Homo sapiens: one gene and its partner. The protein of the gene in region 1 purifies or fractionates together with the protein of each later gene. This does not show direct contact. Each region holds a gene or a part of one and is shown in the gene's direction. Other genes may lie near its edges.

The links.
Region 2: the proteins of CDK12 (region 1) and CCNK purify together in Homo sapiens (affinity purification with mass spectrometry; 6 studies listed by BioGRID and IntAct, with this or other methods). This does not show direct contact.

The regions. Positions count from the first base shown.
Region 1 is NC_000017.11:39,454,754-39,465,571, forward strand, and holds the start of CDK12 (cyclin-dependent kinase 12), read left to right. Parts: upstream 1-6,732; 5' UTR 6,733-7,318; coding exon 7,319-8,364; intron 8,365-10,818. UniProt on the Homo sapiens protein: Cyclin-dependent kinase that phosphorylates the C-terminal domain (CTD) of the large subunit of RNA polymerase II (POLR2A), thereby acting as a key regulator of transcription elongation.
Region 2 is NC_000014.9:99,475,538-99,485,785, forward strand, and holds the start of CCNK (cyclin-K), read left to right. Parts: upstream 1-5,871; 5' UTR 5,872-5,942; exon of another isoform or gene 5,943-6,077; intron 6,078-10,248. UniProt on the Homo sapiens protein: Regulatory subunit of cyclin-dependent kinases that mediates activation of target kinases.

The DNA.
Region 1 (10,818 bases):
GTTCAAAGTTTCAGGGATAAAGCTTCATTCTTTCATTAGTTACTGGTCTCTAATTGGCTTCAAGAGGCAGTAACAGATAATTTTGAAAGGTTCAGCCAGGTGCAGTGGCTCACGCCTGTAATACAAACACTTTGGGAGGCCGGGGCGAGCAGATCACGAGGTCAGGAGATCAAGACCATCCTGGCCAACACAGTGAAACCCGGTCTCTACTACAAATACAAAAAATTAGCCGGGCATGGTGGCAGGCACCCGTAATCCCAGCCATTTGGGAGGCTGAGATAGGAGAATGGTGTGAATCCGGGAGGCGGAGCTTGCAGTGAGCCGAGATCGAGGCGAAGCTTGCAGCGAGACGAGATCGCACCACTGCACTCCAACCTAGGTGACAGAGTGAGACTCCGTCTCAAAAAAAGAAAAAAAGTTTCTGCTGGTGTTTAATCTGGATAATCAATTTAATTCTTCCAGATTTTGACACATCACCGATGCCTTCTGTCGTCTTCACTTTTCCATTCTACTGTGGGTACATCGTGAATTAAAAACTTGATCTCAGCCAGGCACAGTGGCTTGCACCTGTAATCCCAGCACTTTGTGAGGCCAAGGCGGGGGGTGATCACAAGGTCAGGAGTTCAAGACCAGCCTGGCCAAGATGGTGAAACCACGTCTCTATTAAAAATTAAAAAAAAATCATCTGAACATGGTGGCAGGCGCCTGTAATCCCAGCTACTGAGAAGGCTGAGGCAGAGAATTGCTTGAACCTGGGAGGCGGAGGTTGCAGTGAGCCGAGATGAAGCCATTGCACTCCAGCCTAGGCAACAGAGGGAGACTCCATCCCAAAAAAAAGGCCAGGCATGGTGGCTCACACCTGTAATCCCAGCCCTTTGGGAGGCCAAGGCGGGTGGATCATGAGGTCAGGAGTTCAAGACCAGCCTGATCAACATGGTGAAACCCCGTCTCTACTAAACATACAAAAATTAGCCAGGCATGGTGGCGTGTGCCTGTAATCCCAGCTACTAAGAAGGCTGAGGCAGGAGGATCGCTTGAATCAGAGAGGCAGAGGTTGCAGTGAGCCAAGATAGTGCCACCGCACTCCAGCCTGGCAACGGAGCAAGACTCCATCTCAAAAAAAGAAATTAAAAATAAAAACCTGATCTCATTTAAAAGACAGAAAAATCAGGGTGAATTTTATTGAACTCATGACAACAAACCCATGCCAACACTTACTATGGCTGACTGGTCACTACATTTAATCAGCCCAGGAAGTCTCATGCCATCTGTCATCATGTAAAACATTCAAGGCCAGACACAGTGGCCCATGCCTGTATTCCGAGCATCTTGGGAGTCCAGGTGGGAGGATCCCTTGAGCCGAGGACTTCAAGAGCAGCCTGGGCAACATAGCAAGACCCCGTCTTTACAAAAAATAAAAAAAAAATTAGCCAGGCTCTGTGGCTTACACCTGTAATCCCAGCCAGGAGAGGCTGAGGCTGGAGGATTGCTTGAGCTCAGGAAGTGAAGATGGCAGTGTGTCAGCCGGACACAGTGGTTCACACCTGTAATCCCAGCCCTTTGGGAGGCCAAGGTGGGTGGATCACCTGAGGTCAGGAGTTCGAGACCAGCCTAGCCACATGGCGAAACCCCATCTCTACTAAAAATACAAAAATGAGCCGGGCATGGTGGCAGGCGCCTGTAATCCCAGCTACTCAGGAGGCTGAGGCAGGAGAATCACTTGAACCCAGGAGGTGGAGCTTGCACTGAGCCGAGATCGTGCCATTGCACTCCAGCCTGGGGGACAAGAGCGAGACTTCATCTCAAAAAAAAAAAAAAAAAGACTGCAGTGTGTCATGGTCATACCACTGTACTCCAGCCTGGGCAACAGAGCAAGACCTTGTCTCAAGAAAATAAATCCAGGTTGTCCTGGCAACACTGTACTCCAGCCTGGGCAGCACAGCAAGACCTTGTCTCAAGAAAATATATCCAGGGTGTCCTATCCTCCTATAGCGGTGAATAAGGAGTGTTCACAACTGAGTTCCAGTACTTGTGTTTTTCTTTTCTTTTCTTTTTTTTTTTTTTTTTTGGAGACAGTTTCACTCTTGTTGCCCAGGCTGAGTGCAATGGCACCATCTCATCTCACCGCAACCTCCACCTCCCGGGTTCAAGCAATTCTCCTGCCTCAGCCTCCCTAGTAGCTGAGATTACAGGCATGTGCCACCACGCTGGGCTAATTTTTGTATTTTTAGTAGAGACGGGGTTTCTTCTTGTTGGTCAGGCTGGTCTTGAACTCCTGACCTCAGGTGATCTGCTTGCCTCGGCCTCCCAAAGTACTGGGATTACAGGCGTGAGCCTCCATGCCTGGCCCGTGTTTTTCTTTTTTCTTTTCTTTTTTGAGGCAGGTTCTTGTTCTGTTACCCAGGCTGGAGTGCAGTGGCATGATCATGGCTCATTGCAGCCTTGACCTCCTGGGCTCAAGTGATCCTCCCATCTCAGCCTCATAGTAGCTGGGACTATAGGCAAGCAACACCATGCCTGGTTAATTTCTTGTTTTTGTTTGTTTGTTTTTGGTAGGGACGGAGTCTCGCTCTGTCGCCCAGGCTGGAGTGCAGTGGCGTGATCTTGGCTCACTGCAAGCTCTGCCTCCTGGGTTCAAGCAATTCTCCTGCCTCAGCCTCCCGAATAGCTGAGAATACAGGCCCACACCACTACGCCTGGCTAATTTTTTTTTTTTTTTTTGAGACAGAGTTTCTCTTTTGTTGCACAGGCTGGAGTGCGATGGCCCAATCTCGGCTCACTGCAACCTCCGCCTCCTGCGTTCAAGCGATTCTCCTGCCTCAGCCTCCCGAGTAGCTGGGATTACAAGCATGGGCCACCATGCCCAGCTAATTTTTTAGTATTTTTAATAGAGACGGGGTTTCTCCATGTTGGTCGGGCTGGTCTCGAACTCCCGACCTCAGGTGATCCGCCCGCCTCAGCCTCCCAAAGTGCTGGGATTACAGGCGTGAGCCACCAAGCCCGGCGGCTAATTTCTTTTGTATTTTAGTAGAGATGGGGTTTTACCGTGTTGCCCAGGCTGGTCTCAAACTCCTGAACTCAGGCAATTTGCCTGCCTCGGCCTCCCAAATTGCTGGGATTACAGGCATGAGCCACCTTGCTCGGCCTGTCATTTCTTGTATTTTTTTGTAGAGACAGATGTCTCAACATGTTGCCCAGGCTGGTCTCCAATTTCTGGGCTCACGAATTCCTTCCATGTTGGCCTTCCAAATTGTTGGTTTTACAGATGTCAGCCACCACACTCAGCCCTTTTTTCTTTTTGTTAGCCACTTTTTTTTTTTTTTAGATGGATTCTCACTCTGTTGCCCAGGTTGGAATGCAGTGGTGCAATCTTAGCTCACTGCAACCTCTGCCTCCCAGGTTCTAGTGATTCTCATGCCTCAGCCTCCTGAGTAGCTGGAATTACAGGCATATGCCACCATGCCTGGCTAATTTTTGTGTGTGTGTATATATAAATATATATATATTTTTTTGTTGTTTGTTTGTTTGTTTTTGAAACAGAGTCTTGCTCTGTCACCCAGGCTGGAGCGCAGTGGCACGATCTTGGCTCACTGCAACTTCTGCGTTCTGGGTTCAAGCGATTCTCCTGTCTCAACCTCCTGAATATCTGTGATTACAGGCGATCACCACCACGCCTGACTAATTTTTGTATTTTTAGTAGAGATAGGATTTCACTGTGTTGGCCAGGCTGGTCTTGAACTGCTGACCTCAAGTGGTCCTCCCACTTCGGCCTCCCAAAGTGCTGGGATTACAGGCATGAGCCACAGTGCTTGGCCTCTAATTTTTTTTTTTTTTGAGGCAGAGTCTTGCTCTGTTGCCCAGGCTGGAGTGCAGTAGCGTGATCTCCCCTCACTGCAATCTCTGCCTCCCAGTAGCGTGATCTCCCCTCACTGCAATCTCTGCCTCCCGGGTTCACACCATTCTCCTGCTTCAGCCTCCTGAGTAGCTGCGACTACAGGCACCCGCCACCACGCCCAGCTAATTTTTTTGTATTTTTAGTAGAGACGGGGTTTCACCGTGTTAGCCAGGATGGTCTCGATCTCCTGACCTCCTGATCTGCCCGCCTCGGCTCCCAAAGTGCTGGGGTTACAGGAGTGAGCCACTGCGCCCGGCCTATTTTTGTATTTTTAGTAGAAACAGGGTTTCACTGCATTGGCCAGGCTGGTCTTACTCCTGACCTCAAATGATCCTCCCCTCTTGGCCTCCCAAAGTGCTGGGATTACAGGCATGAGCCACTGCTCCCAGCCACTTCTTTTTTCTTGATAGCATTAATTTTACTTCCATAGAAGATCAAAAAGTTGTCGTGGAAAACTTGGTCTTTTTATTTTTTAAATTTTTTTATTATTTACTTATTTATTTTGAGACGGAGTCTTGCTCTGTTGCCAGGCTGGAGTGCAGTGGCGCGATCTCGGCTCGCTGCAACCTCTGCCTCCAGGGTTCAACCTCTGCCTCAGCCTCACGAGTAGCTGGGACTGCAGGTGTGTGCCACCAAGCCCAGCTAATTTTTGTGTTTTTAGTAGAGACGGGGTTTCCCCATGTTGGCCAGGATCGTCTCCATCTCTTGACCTTGTGATCTGCCCACCTTGGCCTCCCAAAGTGCTGGGATTACAGGAGTGAGCCACTGTGCCTGGCCTGATCTTTTTATTTTAGAACCAATATTTATGGACTCAATCATTTAGAGACGGCGGGCGTGGTGGCTCACGCCTGTAATCCTAACACTTTGGGGGCCAAAGTGGATGGAATGCTTGAGCCCAGGCATCTGAGGTCAGACTCGGCAACATAGCCAGCCCTCCATCTCTACAAAAAAATAAAAATAAAAATTAGCTGGGCTGGTGGCCTGTGGCTGTAGTCTCAGCTACTCAGGAGGCTGAGATGGGAGGATCACCTGAGCCCATGAGGGGAAGGCTACAGTGAGTTATGATTGTGCCACTGCACTCCAGCCTGGGCGACAGAGCGAGACCCTTCACACACACACACAAAATTAGGTTAAAAAAAAAAAATGTTTTGGATCGCCCTGTGAGCAAAAGGAACAAGAACATTTACAGAGAGTGATTTTTGAGAATTGAGACTACCTTAATTCAGAATGTTTTCTGGTCCTGAATTTACCAGCTGAACTTCTCCGTTTTGGACAAGCCCCTTCATTTCTCCATGCCTTAGTTTTCTCACTTATACAACCTATTTCAGAGGACTGTTGTGAAGATGGAATGACTTAAGGTAGGCGAAAGTTTTTTAAAAAGTAATAAATGAGGGGCCAGTGTAAGATAGTGTTATTTTCTTGTTAATTAATACTATGCTTTTCTTGTTCATATTATAATCTTTTGTATGAGGATGAAAGGCTAAATTATCCAATAACGGCCATGGGAGGATCTCAAGATGGGATGAGCTTTTAGGTTCTGAGATTTGAAGCAAAGATTGGTAAGGAGACAACACCATAGGATGGAAGAGCTTGTGTTTTAGTCTCAGAAAGACATGAATTTGAATGTTGACTGTGGCACTTGTTGGACCAAATTATTCAACTTCCCTGAGGCTGGGATTCCTTTTCTATAAAACAGGGATGAAAATCTCGTGTTTTGCAGGATAATTGTGAAAATTAGAGATAATGTATGTAAAATTCTTGGCAGGTAGCACACACCCTATATGTGGGAAGCACTGTTAAAACACTCAGGGACTTGGGTTGAAATGTCCCGACATTTGTCTTTTGCTCTGTAAAAAATAATCTCAACCGGGCGCGGTGGCTCAAGCCTGTAATCCCGCCACTTTGGGAGGACCAGACGGGCAGATTGCTTCATTCTAGGAGTTCAAGACCAAGGATCGCGGATTGCTTGAGTCTAGGAGTTCGAGACTAGCCTGGGCAACATGGCGAAACCCCATCACTACGAATAATAGAAACAAATTAGCACGGCGTGGTGGCGCGACTCTATAGTTCCAAGTACTCGGCAGGATGAGGTGGGAGGATTGCTTGAGCCCAGGAGGTGGAGGCTGCAGTGAGCCGAGATCGTGCCACTGCACTCCAGTCTGGGCAAAAGAGAGAGAACTTGTCTCAAACAAACAAAAAAATGGCCCGGCGCGGCGGTTCACGCCTGTAATCCTAGCACTTTGGGAGGCCGAGGCGGGAGGATCACTTGAGGTCAGGAGGTCGAGACCAGCCTGGCCAACATGGTGAAACCCTGTCTCTACTAAAAACAAAAAAGTTAGCCGGGCGTGGTGGCGGGCGCCTGTAATCCCAGCTACTCGGGAGGCTGAGGCAGGAGAATCGCTTGAACCCAGGAGGTGGAGGTTGCAGTGAGCCGAGATCGCGCCACTAACACTCCAGGATGGGCTACAGAGCGAGACTCCGTCTCAAAGGAAAACAAAAAACAAACAAAAAAAAGTCATCCTGGTAGTTAAAAGATTTGTTAAAAAGGATGTTGAAATTATTTTGTCACGGAGCCTGGGAGTGTTTGTTTAATCAGTTACCGATAAAGTTTTGGTTAAAAAAAAAAAACTCGGTTTGTTCCGTTTCAATAAAGCTTTGCTCAAACGGGGAGCTCCGGGAGCTCATCGCGAGACTCAGGTGAAACGCGTTTCTAGTTTGGGACCTGATCTCGCGTTGTTTGATAAGCAGGGGAATGAGGTGAAAGCGAAGCACGAAACATCGCGAGAGGCTACTGGACTCTCGCGACGATTTCTGGGATTGCCCCTCCCCCCTTCCCCAAGTGCCGTTTCGGTTTAATCTAGTGTGTGACTGGGTCTGTGTGAGGGAGAGAGTGTGTGTGGTGTGGAGGTGAAACGGAGGCAAGAAAGGGGGCTACCTCAGGAGCGAGGGACAAAGGGGGCGTGAGGCACCTAGGCCGCGGCACCCCGGCGACAGGAAGCCGTCCTGAACCGGGCTACCGGGTAGGGGAAGGGCCCGCGTAGTCCTCGCAGGGCCCCAGAGCTGGAGTCGGCTCCACAGCCCCGGGCCGTCGGCTTCTCACTTCCTGGACCTCCCCGGCGCCCGGGCCTGAGGACTGGCTCGGCGGAGGGAGAAGAGGAAACAGACTTGAGCAGCTCCCCGTTGTCTCGCAACTCCACTGCCGAGGAACTCTCATTTCTTCCCTCGCTCCTTCACCCCCCACCTCATGTAGAAGGGTGCTGAGGCGTCGGGAGGGAGGAGGAGCCTGGGCTACCGTCCCTGCCCTCCCCACCCCCTTCCCGGGGCGCTTTGGTGGGCGTGGAGTTGGGGTTGGGGGGGTGGGTGGGGGTTGCTTTTTGGAGTGCTGGGGAACTTTTTTCCCTTCTTCAGGTCAGGGGAAAGGGAATGCCCAATTCAGAGAGACATGGGGGCAAGAAGGACGGGAGTGGAGGAGCTTCTGGAACTTTGCAGCCGTCATCGGGAGGCGGCAGCTCTAACAGCAGAGAGCGTCACCGCTTGGTATCGAAGCACAAGCGGCATAAGTCCAAACACTCCAAAGACATGGGGTTGGTGACCCCCGAAGCAGCATCCCTGGGCACAGTTATCAAACCTTTGGTGGAGTATGATGATATCAGCTCTGATTCCGACACCTTCTCCGATGACATGGCCTTCAAACTAGACCGAAGGGAGAACGACGAACGTCGTGGATCAGATCGGAGCGACCGCCTGCACAAACATCGTCACCACCAGCACAGGCGTTCCCGGGACTTACTAAAAGCTAAACAGACCGAAAAAGAAAAAAGCCAAGAAGTCTCCAGCAAGTCGGGATCGATGAAGGACCGGATATCGGGAAGTTCAAAGCGTTCGAATGAGGAGACTGATGACTATGGGAAGGCGCAGGTAGCCAAAAGCAGCAGCAAGGAATCCAGGTCATCCAAGCTCCACAAGGAGAAGACCAGGAAAGAACGGGAGCTGAAGTCTGGGCACAAAGACCGGAGTAAAAGTCATCGAAAAAGGGAAACACCCAAAAGTTACAAAACAGTGGACAGCCCAAAACGGAGATCCAGGAGCCCCCACAGGAAGTGGTCTGACAGCTCCAAACAAGATGATAGCCCCTCGGGAGCTTCTTATGGCCAAGATTATGACCTTAGTCCCTCACGATCTCATACCTCGAGCAATTATGACTCCTACAAGAAAAGTCCTGGAAGTACCTCGAGAAGGCAGTCGGTCAGTCCCCCTTACAAGGAGCCTTCGGCCTACCAGTCCAGCACCCGGTCACCGAGCCCCTACAGTAGGCGACAGAGATCTGTCAGTCCCTATAGCAGGAGACGGTCGTCCAGCTACGAAAGAAGTGGCTCTTACAGCGGGCGATCGCCCAGTCCCTATGGTCGAAGGCGGTCCAGCAGCCCTTTCCTGAGCAAGCGGTCTCTGAGTCGGAGTCCACTCCCCAGGTGAGCTATTTGTCTAACAGTCCTTCCTCATTTAGGGTGGGTTGCGAGGAATTGGCATTCAGCGTGTTAACATTGTCTGGAAGCCCGCAGTGTTCATCATTGACTAGAACACTTTGCTGTTGGCTAGTCATTCCAGTGTGTGAATCTGTCTCCCCTTAACCCAGAATTCGAGAAGTGAAGAGTACATAGGCCTCAAACCGCCAAAGGTAGGTACTTCCAGTGGTGGGGTCTTCAGTTGTAAGCTTCTGAGTGAGAAACGTCAAAGGCTTCTGCTTAGTGAGTGGATGGAGTTGATACTAGTTCCCAGAGCATGTCTAGCTATTTCTGTTGCTTAGTTTTATATTTTTAAAAATCACATTGGTATTTGTGCTTTAGACTCTATGGGACCTGGTTGAAGACTTAAGAAATTGGTATGGAAGTTACTTGCCTAGTTTATCCTATTTGTGTTGTCCACTGAATCCCCAAACCTGTACATTTATTCATTTCCTACTTGGCACTGTTTTAATTATTTACAAAAGATTCCTGTCTTTTAACTGATGTTTTAGTGGAAATTCAGCTGATTAGTCTGTTACCCTTTTAATGGTATAACCTAGCAGAAATTGGTTCCAAGGACAATTTGGTTTTCTTTACAGCATCATCACTGACCTACCTTGTGACCGCTGACAATTTTCAAAATCTTTCTCTAAAACACATAGTAATAATGCCTTCTTTATATTTTTGCGAGAAAGGCATGCTAGTTTGAAATTTTGTTGTTAGAGTGAATTATTTGGAAAACTGTGTTCTTGTTCCTAGGTAATGAGATGTATCTCCTTTGTGGCCTCACTTCTGTTCACAAAAACAGAATGTGGGCTTTAGTTAGACCTTTGTGGAATCCTAATGTTGCTTTGTGACCTTTAGCAAATGAGTTAATTTCTCCTTGCCTGAGTTGCTTCAGGTGTAAAATGGGAATAATAAATACCTACTTTTAAGGGTTGTGATGATTAAATTAGTCAATTTGAAGTGCATAGCACAGTGCCTTGTACATAATATCACTCAGTAAATTATGAGTGAGGATGTTGAACACTGGTAGAGAAATTGTGCTAATTTGAAAAAAATTCATGCATGACTTTTTTTTTTTTTGAAAGACAAGATCTTGCCCTGTTGCCTAGGCTGGAGTGCAGTGGCATCATCTTGGCTCACTGCAGCCTTGACTTCCCAGGCTCAAGCAATCCGTCCACCTCAGCCTCCTGAGTAGCTGGGATTACAGGTTCATGCCACCATGCCTGGCTAATTTTTTTTTTCTTTTTCTTTTTTTTTTTTGTAGAGACTGGGTTTTGCCCTGTTGCCCAGGATGGTCTTGAACTCCTGAGCTCAAGCAATCCTCCTGCCTCCCAAAGTGCTGGGATTACAGGCATGAGCCACCACGCCTGGCTCATGCATGGCTTTTGTATTTCAGTGTAATTTTTGCTGACTTAAAGTTACAATTCATAAATGGTGTGAGTACATCAAGCTGCAGAGTGTTCCTAGCTGTCAAGGGCTGGAGTTCTTAATGTTTCCTCCTCCATTTTATTATAAAAAATTTTCCAGCACAGAAAGGTTGTAGTGAACACCCATATATGTAACAGCAAGATTCTACAATAAATATTTGCTGTATCCAGGCTGGGCAACATAGTGAGGCCCCGTTCTCTACAGGAAAAAAAAAAAAATTAGCTGGTCGCGGTGGTGCACATCTGTAGTCCCCACTGCCTGGGAGGCTGAGGTGGGAGGATTGCTTGAGCCTAGGAAGTCAAGGCTGCAGTGAGCTGTGATCACACCACTGCACTCCAGCCTGAGCAACAGAGTGAGACCCTGTCTCAAAAAAAAAAAAAATTGGGCCAGGAGTGGCTCACACCTGTAATCTCAGCACTTTGGGAGGCCGAGGTGGGCGGATCACGAGGTAGGGAGTTTGAGACCAGCGTGGCCAATGTGGTGAAATGCTGTCTCTATAAAAATATAAAAAATTAGTTGGGTGTGGTGGCGTGCGCCTGTAGTCCCAGCTACTCGGAAGGCTGAGGCAGGAGAATCAGTTGAGCCCGGGAGGCAGAGGTTGCAGTGAGCTGAGATCGTGCCATTGCACTCCAGCCTAGGTGACAGAGACAGAGTAAGACTCAGTCTTAAAAAAAAAAAAAAAAAAGCCATGTATTTTGTAATCTATCTACCTGTCCATTAATCTATCTTTTATTTTCATTTATTTCAAAGTAAGTTGTAGACATCAGTATACTTCATTCTAAACACTTTAACATGTTTACCATTAGCTGGATTACCCTTTTTTTTTTTTTGGAGGGGTGAGGAGTAAAATTTATATACAGTAAAATGCCTAAGTCTTAAGTGTAGCATTTGTAAAGCTGCTTTGTTTTTTGTTTTTTTTTGAGACAGAGTCTTGTTTTGTTGCCCAGGCTGGAGTGCAGTGGAGCGATCTCGGTTCACTGCAACCTC
Region 2 (10,248 bases), on another chromosome or scaffold:
CCTCTCTGACCTGTCAGCTTTTGTGTCTCCCCAAAGTTTTGTCTTCTCCAGGCTTAATGTGCCCCTCATTACTACATATTTCTCAAAAGTGAGCAAAACCACTTAAGCATATTATACTTCAATGAACTGTTTTTTTTTTAAGTCAACAAAACCCTTCAGATGTGCTCTGAGATGGACTACCCACCTTCCTGGAACTCAAAGAAATTTGACTAATATTCCTAAGACTGCCCTAGCTTTTCTATGAGCCCAGTGAATTCATTCCCTCATTCCTGCACATTTCCTGAGAATCTAATCTCAAACACAAAGATGATGCAACATGGTCCCATAGCCTTTAGGACAAGACAGTAATCAACTAAAGCCTTTCGTGATCTTCAGCAAGATAAATGTGCTATATTCAACAACTGAGTTTTTGAACCTAAATGCAACTATTCATGCTGTCATGTTATTTCAGGATCATCCTTGCCATGTCCTGTGTCCTATGGAAGTTCTCCAATATGATCGTCCCCATCACAATCATGTCATTTGGGCATTTATTATATGATCAGGAATTGAGGTAAGCATTTTACACAATATAAGATAGGTATTAACAAGTCCCCTTCACAGATGAGAAAGCTGACGCTTACGGAGACTGATTAATTTATGCAAAATGATAGACTCAGTTTGTGTCAGAGCCTCACCAGCACACCTCAATGACAAATCTTACTGATAATAATATTTCATGAGTTCGGCTCAAAACCAACCCATTTATGAGAGCTCCAAAGGTTCACTGTTATCGCTAATATTCAAAATACTATTCCCTTGCACTGATAAAACATACGCATGTAAAGGTTTTATTTTTTGGCCTTTTAAAAGTATAGTTATTTTGCTGGCTTTGTCCAAATACATAGGAGGAGCTGCAGGTTAAATTTGGGACATGGGCAAAACTTCCAAAAGAGCTTCCATCCAGTCCACCATATCTGCAATGCCACATTTTTGTTGCAGGGAAAAACGCAGAACCATGAGGTGACCATGACATGCAGCGAAGCTAAATTTTTACAAACAACAAATCAAAAATGTTATTAGACACTAGTAAATATTTTATGGTAAAAGCAGCTTTTATAAGTATTTGTCAACACTAATCTTTACTTCCTCTCAAATATGTGTAATAGAAAACTGCTGATATTGAAAAGGCATGTCTATTTTCTGAGACTGAACATTGTAAACCATTTAGTCGGAAGACTTTCTTAGACCTGTTATGTCCTGATGAATTGTATTCTTAAAAAATGGAACGTGAAACTCAGGATCATAGACAGTAATAAACCTAAGTGTATATTTTATTAAGAGTTCTATGTATCATATATTTTTGTCAATTAAAAACTAAAAATAAAAAGTTCCGTGTAGACACTTGATTATCTACATTCTCTAGACAATTTTTTTTGTCCTTCTAAAAAACAGTGGAAACATTTCTTCCTGCTCTGTCCCTCTGCCCTCCCCTACTTCCCCATCCCAGTACTGAGGTTAGGCTTGCAAAAGGCTAATGATTCACTTTGGCTTAGTAATCAGTAGATCCCTTTCAAAATCTTAACTTCAAAGATAGATGTGTCTTTCATTGTCAACCAAGACTGTTTGGACTCACTAGTTCACTTCTACTTGGAAAGTACTTGATAGAAGAAAAAAAAAATTGCAAAGTCTTAACTTTGGTATTTGAATTTTATAATCATTTGGAATCAGTTTTCTTCCATTCAAATTTATCTCAGTCGAAACTGTTCAATATCTGTGTTTTTATCTCGTTTTTACAGTCTGTTTATATCCAAAACTTAGAGGAGACTCCCAAGTGGAAACGGGGTCAACACAGCTAATCTCTGGCTTGAGTTAAAAAGCAAGACTTCTTAATCTTGCAGATGCTAATTTTTTTTTCAAAAGACTATTAAGTAACTTTTTAAAAAGCCAAGTCTCAGCCCAGTGCGGTGGCTCACGCCTGTAATCCCAGCACTTTGGGAGGCTGAGGTGGGCGGATCATCTCAGGTCGGGAGTTCCAGACCAGCCTGACCAACATGGAGAAACCCTTTCTCTATTAAAAATACAAAATTAGCCAGGCGTGGTGGCGCATGCCTGTAATCCCAGCTGCTCAGAGGCTGAGGCAAGAGAATGAACCCAGGAAGCAGAGGTTGCGGTGAGCCGAGATCACGACATTGCACTCCAGCCTCGGCAACAAGAGCGAAACTCCATCTCAAAAAAAAAAAAAAAGCCAAGTCTCAACTTCTTTGTAATAGGAAAATATATTAATATATATTAATATTTTGATAGAAATTTTTTACCTTGAGAGTAAATATTATGTAAATTAATTCTATTTGCATATCAAATTAGTTAACCTCTCCAATTTATGAATAGAAAAATGAGATGATAAAAGGAAATCCAATGACAGAAAACCATTGTAAAGGCAACAGAAGTGAAAACTATAGAAAACTGAAAAAGCAAGACTCTTTATTCTAATACTCTCGACTGGTTAAATATGACCCAAAACAAACTGTTAGCCAGATAAACACTTCTATGACTATAGCAGGAGAGAAAAGATGCACGGCTAATCAAAAGATTTTTCACTGATAAAAAAAGGGCCCAAAAATAAGGGTAGGTAATTGAGAAAGCAAATATTATAACTGGCCACAAGCAACATCCAAAGTAACATAAGAATAAAGATAAGTTCACCGTTCTGTTAAAAACATTTAATGCCATAGCAATAAATGACTCCGAGTTCTCTTTGAGGGAACAAAGTCACCACTCCATTCCCAGGACTTCGGTCCAAGGGAAAGAAACACACTTGAAACTCTTCCTCTCCACCCTCAACAGAAGCACAAGGCACAGCAGCCAGGGAACAGGCAAACCAGTCTCTAAAGATAAATAACCTCTCAGAGAAGGATATTCATCCAACTACACAAAAGAAAGATACAGTATTACTAGTTACAGTTCTAAACCCTACTTCGGATTTGTGATAAGAAAAAAGACTCTATGTAATTAAAACATTGAAGAAAACTGGTACGCCTCAAACTACACTGACATCTAGTCACAAAGCATTCAGAGTAACCCTGACTTGGAGGTAGGATTTTTGCTCATATTTTTACTACAACTCTACACAGCACAAACTATGCACCTGGTTTTCATTGAATTCAATGATTGTCTACTAAATATTCACTCCAAGCAAGCCTCCGTCGCTGATGGTCATACCTTCCCCGGCGCCGTCATCCTGTCATTCTCCTCCAGGCAGGAGAGTACTGTGTTCCAAGGAGGCTGTTGTGACCGTTTATCAGAACTCTCAAAACCAAAACAGTTGTCCAGTGGTTAAGCTTTAAATAGGAAAAATATCACCTCCATATTTTTCTCATTATCCAGTGGCTTCTAAAGCAAAAGCTTAATTATCATTTAAAATGTGGCCTAAATGTCCACGGCACGGAAGAGCAGCGCAGCAGCCATCACTTTCTTACTGACAGTCACTGTGCTCTTACGAGAAGCTTTCGCTATAACCGTACATACAGACATAAGATGTTCTAATCTTCAAATCCAACACCACTCCAATTCCAGGAAAAAAAAGCACTGAGATGTTAGCACACTGGAGAAGCAACCATTTTACTCCTTCAGACTACAGTTCCATTTCAGATATTAACTTACAATCACTTGGAGGGCAGACAGGAAAGGGGTAGCAGAAGGCTAAAATCCAAGGTTGTCTGGGGTCCCAATAAAGAGGTTCTGTAGCTGTTTGAGAACTTGGCTTTGCAAACTACTTTCTTAGGCCGAAGAAAAACTCCTCGGTAAACTGTTGGAATTTCACCAAAGTATCAATCACGGCAGCCCTTGGGACTAATCCAGTACTGCTGGACTTTCACGCATGGTAGCCCGTATAAACACAGTACATACAGCAAGGTTCAAGCAAGTCTTGGCAAATTTTAACAGTGGAGAGGAAGACTGCTTTATTTTGCTATATTCTTGGGTTAAATGTATTCGCTTAAAATAATAAACACTTCTCCGAGATTATTACTGGTTAGTTCAGTTTTGAAATACTGGCAAGGTCATTTCAAGAAGAAAAACGGGAGAGGGAGAGGTATATTTTACATAAGATAAAATTCACACTTTTCAGTGTCCGGTTCTGAGTTCTGACAAACGCATTTATAGTGGCCTCATCAGCACCACAATCAGGCTACGAAGATGGGGTAACTCTTCGAGGATTCTTAAAAGCAAAATTGATTTGTCAGCATACTTTAAAAGTATTTTTGCTTTTGAAACATCACCTTATTTATTTAGAAAAGCAAAATAACACGGTCCGAGTGGTCCTAACCCGCGAATGCCTTTGCAACACTGAAATGCCCTCCTCCCAACACCGGCCGGGCAGGGGTGAGCCCCGCAGCCAGGGGCGCGCGTCACTGTCAGCTCCTTTTCCCAAGTGGAGACCGGGAAAAGACAAGAGTTGCATCGCCGGGCTGGAGCCACGAGGAGGAAGAGTTAACGCCGGAATGACAAACTCTAAAGCACCGAATTGCCTCTCCCTAGTAGGGCACTGCGCGTGTGGAGCACGGCCAGGGGCGCGTGGGAAGAAAGACGACCTATTTCCTACGTCCGTCTTCCTAACTGGACGGCGCGGGAGGAGGCGGGGGCTGGTCCCCGGGCACCCTGGTGGGCACCGAGAACTCGCAGAGAGGAACATAAAACCGCACAGCCTTCCCCGAGCAGCGGGGTGACGGGAGGAAGGAAGGAAATGGGAGCGCGACCCGGCCGCGCGCAGAGCCGAGCCGACTAGCGCGAGGGGCCCGGGCCCCACCCGAGAGCAGGCGCGAGGGCCGGGGACAGCGGGGCAAGCTCGGGGAGAGCGCTGCCTGCACCTGGCACCACCTCGAGACCGGGTGGCGCGGGGCCCGGGAGCGTGGGCGCCAGAGGGGACAGGGCAGCGGCGAGCGCGCGCCTCTCGCCCCGCAGGGCGCCCGGGCAGAGGCCGACCGGCGCCCTCCGACCCCGCCGGGCCCTCCTCGCCCTGGCCCCCGAGCGCACACCTGCCCCTTCAAGCCCCGGGGCCACAGCGGCCGGCGGGGACCCTGGCGGGGGCGCGGGCCGGACTTCGGCCGAGGGGCGCTGGCCAGGGCGAGGGACGGCCTCGCAGAGCTCGGAGACGCGGCGCGAGTTTCCCCCGCGGGCCGCGCGGGCGCAGAGACCGCCGCCAGCACTCACCTGCCCGCTTCCCCTAGCGCAGCGGGAACGACGTACTCCGGCCCGGACCCCGCCGTCCGCCTCAACCAACCCCCAGGCGGTGGCGGCGGTGGCGGCGGCGGCGGCCGGACGGGAGGGGCGGGACGGCAGCCTGAGACGGCCCCGCGACCGCGGCCCAACGCTTCTCCTCCCGCCCCGGACCCCGCCCCCGGGCCGCAGCCGCCGCCGTTCATTGGCCCACGCTTCGGACGCATGGGCGCGGCCCCGCCCCGCCACCCAGCCGGCGTTCCGTTCGGGGTCCTCCCCAGCCAGTGGGCTGGCAGCTCCCGGGGGCAAGAGCGGCCGGCTCAGCCGCCGCCAACCACGATGTCGCAACTGGCTGCGTTCGCCCCCGCCAGAGCTTTGATTGGACGAATCTCGACCCGGGCCCCGCCTACGCGCCCAAGTTCCGTTAGCAGGTTCGGTTGCTCCAGAATGCCTTTTCGCCCCGAGGGGCGGGACCGACGGGATGGGCCCTGTGGCTGGCTCCTCCCTCTGTAAGCAGCAGCCACTGACCCGCGGGGCGGGCGGGGAGGAGAGCGGCGGCTCGTTCCTCTTTTGAGAGCTCTGCTTTCTTCCCATTGGTTGACAGGCATCCTACTCTCTCCGCCCCTCCGGTCGCTTGGTGGCGTCTCAGGACGCAGCGTGATGACGTAGGTCCCCGACATTCCATATACAAGATGGCCGCAGTCGGCAAGGAGAGACGTCGCTGAGGGGCTTGCCTGAAGCGAGGGGTGAGTGACCCACCGACTGAGGGCAGCGCCGCCCACCTCCCGCGTATCTGGAGGTCGGAGTAGGTTATGGCCAACCGCCGCTATCCACTGGCGGAGTCTCTCTTTCCGGATTCTGCCTCCCTCCGCTAACCTCCGGTACACATTGAACTTTGCGGGCGACGCGGGGTTGTGGGGCGGGCGTGTAGAGAGGGTCTGAGGCGCCGGGGCGGGGCAGGGAGGCCGGACTCACCCTAGAACTGGTAGCGGCCCTCGCACTGGGGGGCAGTCAGAGTTGGGGAACTTTCTAGGGGTTGGGCAAAAGGGGCAGCGGTGTTAACCGCGCACAGTCTCACAGCCACAGACTTCTCATATCTCCCCGATTATTTCGCGGCGTATTAGTCCCAACCTTGGCTAGGCCTGAAACTTTTTGGAGGTTGTTCCATGTCTAGGGTACTCCGACTTTGGAGTTTTGGAGAGCCACGTAACGAGGGTGCGGCTAAGATGAGGAAAAGGCACTTCCGGGATTAGATTTCGTTCTTGCCCAGACATCGTCTTTACGGACCCGCTCCTGGTGGTTGATTTGGTTTGTTATGAGAGAAATTGTTCTTTAGAAAATTGGAGCGTAAGTCTAGAGGTTATGTGACAGCTCCTAAACGATTGTCTGCCCAAGATAGGCTCGGTAATGCTCCCTAAATTTAGACTGCCAGTTAAACGGAGCTTTCGCTAAGTCATCTGAGGTTAGGAACTATTTCTAAGAGCATTTCTTAAGGGTGGTCTTCTGTGTTTTTAAGAGAAACTTGGTGATGTTTGTGTATCTCGATCTAAATCGCTGTTTACAGATACCTAGCACAATGCCTTGCAGTTGTAGGTGCCCGCTAAAGGTTTGTATGAATGATGTTGCTAGAATGAAAGCGAGGAGCTTTCAGCGCCTAGAACACTGCCTGACGTTTAATAAGCCCTCTGTATTGCTGAATGAAAGAATGGATGGATGATGGTAGTGGTAGTAGTATTGATAGACATTTGGATTAAAGTGCCCTTAGGATGCTTACCTGTTAAATAATCTTGACTATGAATATAATAATTATCCAAGATTGTCTTATTCAGAGTGACCACCGCTGGTGTCTTTTAGGGTTTTTTTCCCTCTTTTATCTCATTTCGATTATATTGTGATGCATTATTCAAGCATATTAGTTGATTTCTGGGCAAATCCTGTTTAAATTTGTTCCATTTTGAAAATGTAGTTTGCACTAACAAGCAATAAAAACTATTCGAGTTGTTAATGAGGTTCTTAAATTTTAAATGCTGTTTCTAAAATTGAATGTCATAAAGAAAAATTGGTCATAGCTGTGGCCTATAAAATGGGCTAGTTCATTTCAGGACATTATATTTGAAAGCAGTGACTCTGCTGAGTGTCTGAAAGGGAGGACAGTGTTTTCTGCTTGTTTTCTTTAAAATTGGATAAGGACAAAAAAATCTAGAGGAATTAAATTCAAGGTAATTGAGGAGATTACAGAGTGATCATATTTTTAAGCTCAGGTAAATTGTATACCAGAGTATTTGCAGATGACTTTATAAAATCGTTATTCTTAGATTTTGAAAAATCCTAAAAGTACAGTTAATGATAGAAGACTAGAATCTGGTAAATGTCTGTTTTCACATAGAACCATTCGATGGCTCTTGGCTACTAGGAACCTATTAATAATCTGTTTTAGAATCTTGTTGGAAGAGCCAACAAGTTTATGAGTACTTGGGAAAGGAGAGCTGATTCCCTGAAGCCAGCAGAGCTTCAGTGAGAAAAGGCCAGGTGAGGCCAGAGGTGGTGGCTCACGCTTATAATACCAGTACTGTGGGAGGCCAAAGCTGGAGGATCACACAAGCTCAGGAGTTCAAGACCATCCTGGGCAACATAGTGAGACCTCACCACTACAAAAAAAAAATCAAAAAATTAGCCAGATGTGGAGGTGCATGCCTGTAGTAGCTACTTGGGAGACTGAGGCAGGAGGATCACTTGAGTCTGAGAGATCAAGGCTGCAGTGAGCCGTGATCGGGTGACTGCGCTCCAGCCTGGGCGACAAAGCAAGACCCTGTCTCAAGAAAAAGCCAGGTGACACAAATCATATTTCCTTTTGTTACAGTTTACTAGACTGGTGGTGATTGGGGATTGTTGGACATAAGTTCATTTAAGTTTATTTAGGACATAGTCTTCCAACAAGATTCTAATACTGTGTGTAGACACAAGAGTTAAATGTGCATTGGATAAGGTGTGGTTAGATGGATTTATATCCATGCAAATTACCAAACCCGAAATGTTGATTAATGAGTTGATGTAAGCCTGGGGAGATGTCTTTGGAGATATGCTACAGGACTCTGGTCTTGCCCTTACTCGGATTAACACTTTCTTAATACCAACTTTAAATAGATAAGCAGCGTGATTCTCAAGTTAATAAATGCACTCAAACCATGTAGTGATAATGAGCAAATTAGATGACACTCAGAAATCAAAGATTTCTTAAAGGCTGAAATATAATAATAGGCCAGAACTGGCCAGATATAAATTTACTAGGTGAGATTGTCTCAAAAAAAATAAAAAATAAATAAATTTACTTGGTGTGATTACATTTACAAAACCTGAGTTTTCCTGGCTTGACAAAAGTGGTTCTAGGATGTAACATTCCACTTAAACAGAAGAAAAGCAGTGTCTAGATTGAGGGAAGGCAGTATCTTGGTATAAAGTAAGACTAGTTGTGATGCTGCTTGCTAGCTGTGAATTAGTCAGGTTGTTTCGTGTCTCTGGCTCCATTTTCTCAGTGATAAATTGTGAGGATAAGAAAACTAGCTTGCAGACATGCTGCAACGCAGCAGACACACAATGGACATGTTACTGCATGTTAGTTACCACCCCCCTCCCATGTGCTATGCACATCATATCTGTTTTGATTCCTAATATTTAGGGAGGACTTGAAACACTAAAAAAAAAGAAAAATCATGATGAGAAAAATGGTTAGATTTGTTTACCCTAGAGAAGAGAATGTAAAAATTGCTTTTACCTGTTTGAAAGACAATCAATAGATAAGGGAAATGTATTTTCAAGGCTTAGTTTAAGGACCCTGGTAGAAGTTAAAGAGTCGCTAAAAGGTAGATTTCATTCATGCATTATTTTATGCCATCTGTGTAGCAGATCTAGGGGATGAACAGGACAGATAAAAATCAATATAGGAATACAGGAATTATGTGAACACCAGTTATTGATACCCAGCAATGCCATAGGCTGTTTTGTAAACTAATGAGGTTTCATTGATAAGTGGCCAAATATTACTAAGAGGGGATTTCGATATTGGGTGAGATAATTGAGTGGTGACATTTACTATTGTTTCCATAATTCTAAATGTTGAAAATATATTTAGTCTTTTATGATGTAAAATGATATTTATGAAGCACATTCCTGAAAGGTGCTGCTAAAATGCCTTGACAGGTTGCTTGTTTATGGATTTTCATTTTGCAGAGTTCATAAATCTCAGTCATTTTCAGAGGAATCACAAGCTACTAATGAGAAAACTTACAACTTTAGGGTCTTGTGAAAAAATAATTGAAGAGTAATAGGGAACAGGTTTATAGACCTGAGGCAAAAACTTTTTCAGGGAGTTCTACGATTTTGAGGACTGTCTCTATTCTGTTTATGTCCATAATATTTTCACTACATTTCATGAATTGTTTATATTCTGCCTTGGAACCTAAAGGGACCAGGAGTTTGGCCAGTTACAGAAGGTAAAACAATTGAATATACTTACGATTTATCCGCTTGTGGACCGAGGTTCTTTTCCATTCCAGTTTCATCCCTACTGGGGTATTCCTAACACTGTTCCCCGTTCTGCCCCTTTCCCCTCAACAGATATCTTGGCATTATACTTCCTAGAGAATATGGAGGTACTCTTGAGATTTTTTAGTTACTTCCTCCCCCTTAAAAGATTATTTAAAAATATCTTTCTCAAACTTTTCCTTCCATTCTCAGGGGAAGAAAGAGCTTTCTTTCTAAGGTTAACTTTCTTGCTGTGCTTTTTATTATCCCTTGACCAGTTAGCCTCCCTTGTTCTGACTCCTCTAGTGATTCCTTTTTGTTTTTACTGGCTGCAGACATTTTTCATTCTCCTTTATGCTGAAAAATATATAAAAACCAAAACAATAACAAAACCTACTCCCTACTATTCCCTGTTACTCTCTTTGAGAACAGATGCCTCAAAAGAATAACCTATTTCCAGCCAGGCACGGTGGCTTATGCCTGTAATCCCAGCTACTCAGGAGGCTGAGGCAGGAGAATCACTTGAACCCT